Linked DNA regions of Homo sapiens. The protein of the gene in region 1 purifies or fractionates together with the protein of each later gene. This does not show direct contact. Each region holds a gene or a part of one and is shown on either strand. Other genes may lie near its edges. The genes, in order: KIFAP3, GAP43 and RAP1A.

What was found.
Region 2: the proteins of KIFAP3 (region 1) and GAP43 purify together in Homo sapiens (affinity purification with mass spectrometry; 2 studies listed by BioGRID and IntAct, with this or other methods). This does not show direct contact.
Region 3: the proteins of KIFAP3 (region 1) and RAP1A purify together in Homo sapiens (affinity purification with mass spectrometry; 2 studies listed by BioGRID and IntAct, with this or other methods). This does not show direct contact.

What each region holds. Positions count from the first base shown.
Region 1 is NC_000001.11:170,064,583-170,068,319, reverse strand, and holds part of KIFAP3 (kinesin-associated protein 3), read left to right. Parts: exon of another isoform or gene 1-816; intron 817-3,737. UniProt on the Homo sapiens protein: Involved in tethering the chromosomes to the spindle pole and in chromosome movement. Binds to the tail domain of the KIF3A/KIF3B heterodimer to form a heterotrimeric KIF3 complex and may regulate the membrane binding of this complex.
Region 2 is NC_000003.12:115,717,408-115,719,881, reverse strand, and holds part of GAP43 (neuromodulin), read right to left. Parts: intron 1-2,474. UniProt on the Homo sapiens protein: This protein is associated with nerve growth. It is a major component of the motile 'growth cones' that form the tips of elongating axons. Plays a role in axonal and dendritic filopodia induction.
Region 3 is NC_000001.11:111,618,289-111,621,888, reverse strand, and holds the start of RAP1A (ras-related protein Rap-1A precursor), read right to left. Parts: upstream 2,101-3,600; 5' UTR 1,955-2,100; exon of another isoform or gene 1,491-1,954; intron 1-1,490. UniProt on the Homo sapiens protein: Counteracts the mitogenic function of Ras, at least partly because it can interact with Ras GAPs and RAF in a competitive manner. Together with ITGB1BP1, regulates KRIT1 localization to microtubules and membranes.

The DNA.
Region 1 (3,737 bases):
TTATTTGCACTGGTTTCTTTTTGCTCTTTGGACATATTTAAGACAGTTGATTTAAAGTCTTTGATAAGTCCAGTGTTTGTGCTGTAGCATGGACAGTTTCTGTTAATTTTTTTTATTGTGAGAATGAGAATGAGTTTCTTGTTTCTTTGCATGTTTCATATTTTGTTTTGTTGAAAACTGGGTATTTTGAATATTATGGTATCCAAAGGAAAAAAAGAAAAGAAAAAAATACTCTTCAGATCTTTGTAGGTTGACTCAGTGTTTGGATATGGCTTCAACACTTAGCCAGGCAATTTACAATTTTACCTTAGCCTTCATTTGCTGCTTGCACAGAGCCTGAAGACCAGCCAGAGGTAAAAGCTTATGATCTTCCCAGGTTTTTTCTGGGTATGTATTCTGCCCTGAGCATGCTCATGGATTTCTAGATTTCTCTTTATATGCAATAGCTTTTCAAAGCATCTATTCCCCCAAAATGTCTGACTCCCTGGACTTTCCTCTTGGGCTTTCAGCTTGTGTTTTGTTTGACCCAGCTATTACTATTTATCCCAGGGGCCAGCAGCTTGTATGCTTGGCTTTCACTGATTTCAGTGACTGCATAGCTGCACTATCCTGATAAGAGTTTAAAATTAGTCAAAACAAAGGAAAGCCCCTTGCAGCTGACCTCAAAGGAAACTTCAGTCAGTTGCAAAACAATCAGACAAAATTCCTTGGGAGCAAGGTCCACTTGACTCCTCTAGAACCAAGTATTAACAGTGGGAACGTGGGCTGCCATCTTGAAGACTGCCACTGTGCTTGAGAGTGGGGTGGATGTCTAGGGTAAGTGAAAAGACCATAATGATCGCCTACCTTGTTTCTGTAACCTTTCTTCTGATTAAACATTCACTTGGTTGCTGTAAACCTTTGACTGTCTTCCAGAGTTCTGATGAGGTTGATTGTGATAGGTTTTTTTTGCCAAGTTTTTAGTGCTTCTGGGGAGTGCCAGCCTCTAGAGGTCCCTACTCTGCCGTTTTCACTGATGTCACTTAGCCATTATCTTTTCATATATTGCTCTGTACCCATTCTCTCTCACCTTTTTTCTGGGACTTCAAGTACATATGCTAGACCTACTCAGTATGCATTGCTGAATTATACTTTTGCTTGTGTTTTACATCTTTTTGTCTCTATGTTTTATTCTGGGTGTTTTCTTCTGACTTATATTTTATGCCATAAATTATCTCCTTACCCGTATCTAATCTGCTATTAAACCTATTTATTTATTATTATTCTTAATTTTGGTTATTGTATTTTTAATTCTAGAAATTTAAAAAAATTATCTAGTTTTTTCTGAAGATGACTATTCTTTGAGTATCATATATAGGAATATAAATGTATAAATAATCATTTGAGGCTCAGGATGATGTTCTCTTTTTCCAGAGAAGATTATATTTTATTTATGTTAGTAAGGATTACTGAAAATTTAGGGTCACCTTAATTAGTTCTCAGAGATTCAATTACATTAAACTGGGCTTTTTAGTCTTGTTGGTGACCGATCTGCATCTGTTTCACAGTTACTCCTAGGAGGTAGTCCTCCTGTTTCAAGCTTAAAGCTTGGAGCTTTACCAGAGCCACTGTTGTTTGGTGCACTCTAGAATCCAGTTTTTGTGTCTCTAGCCTCATGTGATTATTAAAAGATTCTCAACCTCTCAGCCCTCTCTTTTCAGTTAGCAGATACCTCTAGGGAAAAGTAGCCTCAAATTCAAGATTTACCTCTCTTCATTTTCTTTTTCTCCTGGATCTTGGCACTGTAATTTTTTGTGCCTTTTTAGTTCTCTTATGGCCTCAAACAGATACACACATACGTGTTTTTGCCCCCAGCTTTTAAGATTTTCTTAGAAGGTGCATTGGTTTGAATTACCTTAATCCTCTGTTTCTCTATTACCAAGTCTAATGTTAGTAATAGAAATATAAAACTTGTTTTGGTTTTACCAATATGAAAAGCATCAGGAATTATAAATATTTGAGTACATATAAGAGATTATTTCCCTCTTAATTTTTTAAAAATACATATGACTTGAAAGCAAAAATTATGAAATTTTTGTGTGAGTTTATAAGGTATGTACACATAATGCATATGACAGCTATAACATAAAGAATGGGGGGGGGGGTGTAGGCAATAGACCTGCAATTTGTGAAGTAGCACAGCATTAATTCTTAAATACCTTGTGAAAAAAAAAAGGTAACTAAAACATTGTTTTTCCTAAAGCAACCACCAAAAACAGTTTTTAAAAGTATAGTGAAAACATCTACACAAAATGGAATTTAAAAAATAATAATTCACAAGGCTGTTAGGAAAATAATCAAAGTATAGTTGGGCCAAACAGGAAATAAAAATGAAGTGATAGATCTGAATCTAAGTATGTCAGTCATTGCATTAAATGATCCAAAACAATAATGTCCAATAGAACTTTCTTCCCTGATGGAAATGACTTACAGCTGCATCATCAAATACATAGCCACTGGCTGTATGGCTAATGAACACTTTGAACGTGGTTAGTACAGCTAAGGAATTGCATTTTTAATTATTTTTAAAATGTAATGTATTTAAATTTAATTTTAAATAGACCCATGTAGCTAGTGACTATTGTATCAGACAGCATAGGTTTTAATGTTCCAATGGAAAGGCAGAGATTACCAATATTTCTTTTTTTTTTTTTTTTTTTTTTTTTTGAGGTGGAGTCTTGCTCTGTCGCCCAGGCTGGAGGGCAGTGGCATGATCTTGGCTCACTGCAAGCTCCGCCTCCCGGGTTCACGCCATTCTCCTGCCTCAGCCTCCCAAGTAGCTGGGACTACAGGTGCCCGCCACCATGCCCAGCTAATTTTTTGTATTTTTTAGTAGAGACAGGGTTTCACCATGTTAGCCAGGATGGTCTCGATCTCCTGACCTCATGATCCACCCACCTCGGCTTCCCAAAATGCTGGGATTACAGGCGTGAGCCACTGCGCCCGGCCACCAATATTTCTTTTATAAAGAAAAAAGAAAAGCAAGACCCAACTATCTGTCATCCCCAAAAAATATACTTTTAAGTATGGACATGGTAAGTTAATGGTAAATGGGTGCAATCAAACAGTAAGCATAAGAATGCTAAAATGACCATATTAATGTCAGATAAAATAGGCTTTAAGAAAACGTATACTGTAAAAACTACAGAGGAGTATTTCATACTGATAAAATCTGCTACATCCAGACAGTTTTAAAGTCAAATTCTAACAAAATTTTTGGGAAACAGATGCTTCCAATTATGTACAACTCTTCCAAGAAGTCTAGAAAAAAAAGGATACTCCTCAACTAATTTATATTAAGATTTTAGAATAATCTCCATATGAAAGTCAGAAAAAGGACATTAGAAAGGAAAATTGCAGGCTGAATGAGCAAGGATGCAAATTTAATCTAACAGTGCTTTAAGACAGCATTAACAAGTTGTGCTTATTCTAAGAATATGAGTATGGTTTTATGTATTTAATGAATTTGATGTAGTATATTTATGAATTAAAGAAGAACAATACATGATCCTCCAATGGATGCAGAAAAACATTTGATGACATTCACTACACATTCATGATTTAAGGAAAAAACTAAAGCCATAAATAAAAGGGAATTATGATATAAACATATTAAATGAGGAAACTAGCCAGGTGTGTTGGCTCATGCCTGTCATCCCAGCACTTTGGGAGGCTGAGGCTGGTGGATCGCTTGAGCC
Region 2 (2,474 bases), on another chromosome or scaffold:
GCTAGCTTGTGGAAAAAGAATTCATTTGCTCTGAAACAACTTGTGTTGCCAAACAATCAACTCCCTGTGTCAGTGTCCCCCAAGACCACCCCTAGGTTCAGTGATTTGCTAGGAGGACTCATGGGACTCAGCATGCAGTCTGCTTCATAACTAAAATTTATTGCAGCGAAAAAACACAAAGCAAAATAAGCAAAGCTGAAAGTTGCGCATGGGCAAAGTTTGGAGGAAACCAAACAAATTTCTAAGAGTCTTCTCCCCATGGAGTCACCCAGGATGTGCTTAATTCTTTCAGCAATAAATTACCATAACACATGGAAGATGTCATCTATTAGGGAAGTTTAACTGAGTGAGTTTGCACTGGTAATAGGTCATGTAGGCACCCTCCAGCAAGCAGGTACAAAATTCAGACTCCCAGAAGAAAAATAGATGTTCAGCATAAACCACATTGTTTGTACTATGATTTTAGGCACCTGGAACCACTCTTATCAGTTAAGGAATGATGAGAATCTTCTCAAAATCCAAGATCCCAGATGCCAGCCAATGGTCAACTTTACAAACAAGCCTTTCTAAGGATAGCAGTCCCAGGCCTACTGTATTAACTGTTTTTTTTTTTCCTCAATCCCTGATATTGACGATGCCTCTGTCTTAAAATGGAGCTATTGTTATTGCTTGTCCTCCTCTTAACAACTACTAGGTGCTGATTATTCTTGGAAAGGTAAACTGGAGTCCATGTAATTTTGTTAGGCTAACAAATTTGTGTTTAATTAGAAGATAACAGACATAGCTTGAAAGCACTTGAGCAAGGAACATAATACAGCTATGCTTTGAGGAGATTAAACTAGGAATACTAAATAAAATAGTTTTACTGTACATAGATGTTGAGATTAGAGAAATGGGGTCATTAAGGAGACCATTAAAAGAGCTCATCAAAATGTATGTCTCTTTTAAATCAGCCAGCTACATATTTACATTCAGATGAAGCTGAACATTTATACCCACCATTATTAAACAAATTTATGGAATTTCTTCTCTGAAATACCTATCAAAAAACATTCTTTTAGAGCTCTTCAGTAGCAGAAATGCTTATTTTTTGAAAATAGGTTAGGTTTTTAGAATCTAACTAGACTAGTCTGGTAAATAAAGTAAGCAGCTACGATGGGTAATTTTACCTTATAATACTCACTTTTGACCAGGGTTTTAAAGTCTGACTTATTTTATAGGGTTCATAACTCACTATAAGCTATTCATAAAATATAGCTATTCTAGTGATGCTACCTACTACTACTTATAAGATTTTTTTAAGGCTATAGCTTTCCAAAGTGACTGTAATTACCTGTTGAACACAGTGCACCTATCCAAGTTTTGCATGAAACTAACTCAATTCTGATCATTATAATACACTATGCATCAGCAGTATTCCTCAGGAATTACAAAAATTTTGGTGTGCTAATGAGGTATTTAATTTTCTACCAGAAGAAAGATTCCAGATTTATTTCAGTGAAGTCCTTCTAAAACAATTAGGAATTCTTTTGGAGAGTTTGCTTGGTTCCCTAACCCTGCTCAAACCTTTGGATATTACAAGTATGCCCAAGGTAGTTTACCATCCTTATCAGTTCCAAGAAGCAATGTTTTTAGTGCCCTTTTCAAACTGCAAAATAAACATAATATTGATTTACACAACCCAGAAACATATAGAAAGATAGTAGTTATAGGAACAAGAGAAGACTTCAAATCTCTCCTTCCAAAATAAAGACATGGGAGCTATTATGTATGCTTAGAGGGAGATTAGGAAATGAGAGAAAAAGGGAAGTAGACTGGGAAAGGTGAGAATTGCATGTTTGTTGAATAAAGGGAATAAAACTCAAAAATGCAGAAACAGAAACTTGAACATTCAGATGGTTCTGAGATGCAGCTACACTTTCTGTTCCCTTGTTGGAATACAATCAAGCTAAATCCTCCCAAATTCTCCCACTTTCTCTTGTCATCCATTGCCTGGTCCTAGGACAAAAGACGAAATTTGGCACAAATCTGTTTATTATGACAGGAAATTATGAAGCTCTATTGAGAGAGCCTCAATATATATTCATTTTCTCAAATGCTTCAAAGTATTTTAAATGTAAATATTTATTAATTTATTTGTTCAATAAGTTGTTACTGGACACCTGCACTGTGCCAGGCATTCTTCTAGGTACTGAGAAAAAAAAAAAAAAAAGCAAAATCCTTGCTCTCCTTAAAGCCTTTCATAATATACCTTTAAAAGACAATAAAATTCAGGCTGGGTGCGGTGGCTCACACCTGTAATCCCAGCACTTTGGGAGGCTGAGATGGGTGGATCACCTGAGGTCAGGAGTTCGGGACCAGCTTGGCCAAAATGGTGAAACCCCGTCGCTACTAAAAATATAAAAGTAGCTGGGCATAGTGGCATGTGCCTATAATCCCAGCTACTAGGGAGGCTGAAGCAGGAAAATCACTTG
Region 3 (3,600 bases), about 58 Mb from region 1:
CCATACAAAAAGTGAACAAAGGCTTTTGAGCTGTTTTAATATGGAACTGTGTAACACTGAGGGATTCCATCCAGTTCACTTCTAAGACATAAGTTCATGGTTGGCCTCAGAGGGTCCCTAAAACTAATGCAAAATTTTGTGAATAAATGCCTATTAACTTTATTCTGGGGAGAGAGTTTATATATTTCATCATATTCTCAAAGGTGTCAGTGGCCTAGAAAAGGTTAAGAATTACTATCTTACAAACTGGAAATGGACTGCAGTATCCTAATATAGGGTACCTCTCAAAAGGACAGAAGATTTAATAACTAGACTCATCTTTGTAATCATTCAATTCATTCAACAAATACTTAACACGTATGATCCTCAATACCTAACAGCTAATCGTATCTGAAGTAGGCCATAATTTAAAACACCAAGAAAACTAGACAGGATTCACTGAAATATCACGCTACAAAAGAATATCGAACTATATGATTTCAAAACAACAATGTTATAGGAAAGCATAATAAAGACAGAAAGTCTGGGGCCTAATTTAATGCTTATTATGTCAAAGTATCACAGAAATAAATTACATCACAAGGAAAGAAAAACTACACATAGGCATGTCCACCCCCACACATTCTGACAGGAAACCCAAAGAAAGTTTCCAAATCCTGTTTCCAGCAGCATCTCTTCTGAGACGGCCCTTCATGCTTTTGAAGGTAGGAGCCCCAAGTTAAATCTAAGAGCTGATACTTTATTCTTACTGTAATCAAAACAAAAACATCATCCGCCACCTAAGAAGAGTGGCTGGCTACCTGTAGGGCTGTGGCTCATTGACCTTCTGCTCTATTATTCTATTTCATTTCTTATACCTCCTCCCTTCAAAGAAGTAACAAAATGATTTTCCCTCCCAAAACAGAATGCATTACTCCTCAATGGCAGTTCTTTTTCCAAGAGGTCAAAGGTTCCCTAAACTCTGGTTCTCAGCCCTAAGAGGAGATCCCATTTTGTAGGCACAAATGTCTTCCTCTCATCTTCTCCCCGTAGCAGTAAATTACACAACTCGGCTGAAGACACCGTCCTTAACTTCCTGATTAAGGGGGCAAGAGATACTCTTACCAAGCCGCTAGTTTGAAGGATAACAAGAATCACACCGTGACCTCTTCCCTAACAAAATTCAGGGAAGAAGCAGAGACCCATGAAAAGTAACACTGAAAAGGCGAACACATGGTAAGCTACGGAAGACATGAGGGTAAAGAAGGCGGGAAAGGGGCTGGAAGGTGGAGTGGGATGTAGATGTCAGCCCTATTAACTGGGGGAATAAAGGAAGGAAAGGGAGACCCTGAACCCTGACAGAAGTGAGCCCGGAGACAGCAATGCTCCAGTCTACCCGCACTCCTACAGCAGAGGACAGAGAATTCACCCAACCCTCCAACCCCGTTCCCCGTGTGTCCCTCCCCCCCGCCCCCGCGGGCCCAAAAGGGAGAGCTGGGTTTGAAGGAAGCTCTGACCCTAGACAGGGGACATGCAAGAGGAGGAAGGCAGCGATGTCCAACCTTCTACTTCTCTCAGGCAGTGAGGTACGAGGGCACCGTGTCTGGGGAGACGGCGAGGGAAATGGGCTTGTGCTATGACACCTCGGGGAGCTGAAGGGTGGGGGACACAATGTCCTCTTTCTCTCCCACAGCCGGCCGGGGCCCCTCCCGACGGTCTCCCGCAGGCCTACAGTCGACCGGGTCGGTCCGCGGGCGTGGTTGGCTCTGGCCCTGGCGGCGGCCGGGCCTCCCAGATCTCCGGCCCCTCCCGCCGGCCAGGCCCCCGGGCCGCCGCCCCGACACCGATGGAACGCGGAGGAGGAAGGGGGAGCCAGGCGACTGACCGGCGACATGAGCCGCCTCACCCTCGGCTCGGCCGACCCGCGCCCCCCGCTCCCTCTGGGGCCGTCTGGAGCTCCCCGCCCCTTACTCACCCCCCCGGTCCGGCGCCTCCTCCACCTCCTCCACCTCCTCCACCTCCTCCTCCTCCTCCTCCCTCCTCTCGGCCGTGGCTCCTGCTCCGGCTCTGCGCGGCGACAGCAGCGGGAGCGGCGGCGGCAGGGGCCTCGGGAGCGGCGGCGGCGCCTCCTCCAGAACGCGCACGCACGCACCACGCAGGCCCCGCCCCCTGGTTCTGCCCCGCCCCTCCAAGTTGGCGATGGCTGGGCTTCGGCCCCGCCTTCCCCACGGCGTTCCGGAGTCCGCTTAAAGGAGCCGCGCACACTGGAGCCGGGAAAGCCTGGAGCTACCGGGAAGGGGCGGGGAGTTTTAGCTTTGCGTAGGGCGGGATGGGAGGTGGGTAAGACCGGAAAAAAGATGAGGAAGGGTCCAAAGATTCAAGAAGAGAATTTGGAGGGAACTCAATCATTCGACAAGCCCTAATTGAGCACCTGTTAGGTTCCAGGCGCTGTTCTAACTAAGCGCAGAGGTTTAAAGTCATAGACAGGCAAAGACCCTCTTGCAGCTTGCATGCTGGTGGAGTGAGAGAGGGGAGACAGACAACAAACAAGTGACAAAAATTGCAGGTAGTGATAAGTGGTGTGGAGAAAAATAAAGCAGAGGATAGGGTGACTTTACACCTGGTGAGATACTGCCTCTCAAAGAAGACCTTTGAGCGCATACACACGGGATGAAGGAATAAGTCTTGCAAACACGCGGGCCTGGAGGAGGAATAGCCTTTCCAAGCTGAGAGAAAATCAGCCATAAACCCAGAGGTGGGGATACGCCTGCCATGTTGCAGAAACAGTGAAAGGCCGGCATGGCTGAGCAGCGTCAGCCAGCCCGAGAGCAGTACCAGCTAGGCTTGGCCAGATCCAGTGAAGCCTGTGGGCCATTATAACAGGAACGGGAAACCATGAGAGAAGGGTGAGCCGAGGAATGACCGCATCTGATTCATGTTGTTAAAAGTTAGTCTTGCTGATGTGTGTAAAATACACAATGGAGAAGCACAGATGTCCTTGGGATACCAGTAAGGTAGCTTGGACTAACTAGCCTGGCAGCCACGGACAGGATGAGAAGAAGGCTATTTTATTTTATTTTATTTTATTTAGATACATTTTGATTGGAATGGATTTGGATTTGGGGCATAGTGTGTGAAAGAACAAAAAGAAATCAAGAGTTGATTCTTAGGTTCGGGCCTGATGACTGAGTTAATGGCGGTGCCACTTAATGAAATGGAGGAGCAGATTTGGGGATGGGGAAATCAAGAGTCTTTTCTTACACATGTTATGTTTAAGGTGTCTGTTATACATCCAAATGGAGATATTGAATAAACAATCGATATATGAGTCTAGAGAGATACATTTGGGATTCATTAGCAAATAGATACTTTTTAAGTCTTAAGTCTAGTTAGGATCACATGGGGAGGGGAGATAGCTGAAGGAAAGGACCAAGAGGCACTCCAACACTTGAAGGTTAAGTAGAAAAGGAGGCGCTACCAGTCAGGGCAGGAGAAACACCAAGAGAAGGTGAAGCGTTGGAAAACAAGATAATTGTTTCAGGAAGGAGAGAGTGAAGAGTCTTATCAGATACTGCTGAAATTAGTAAGATAAGGACTGAGAATTTGAACACTGGATGTGGC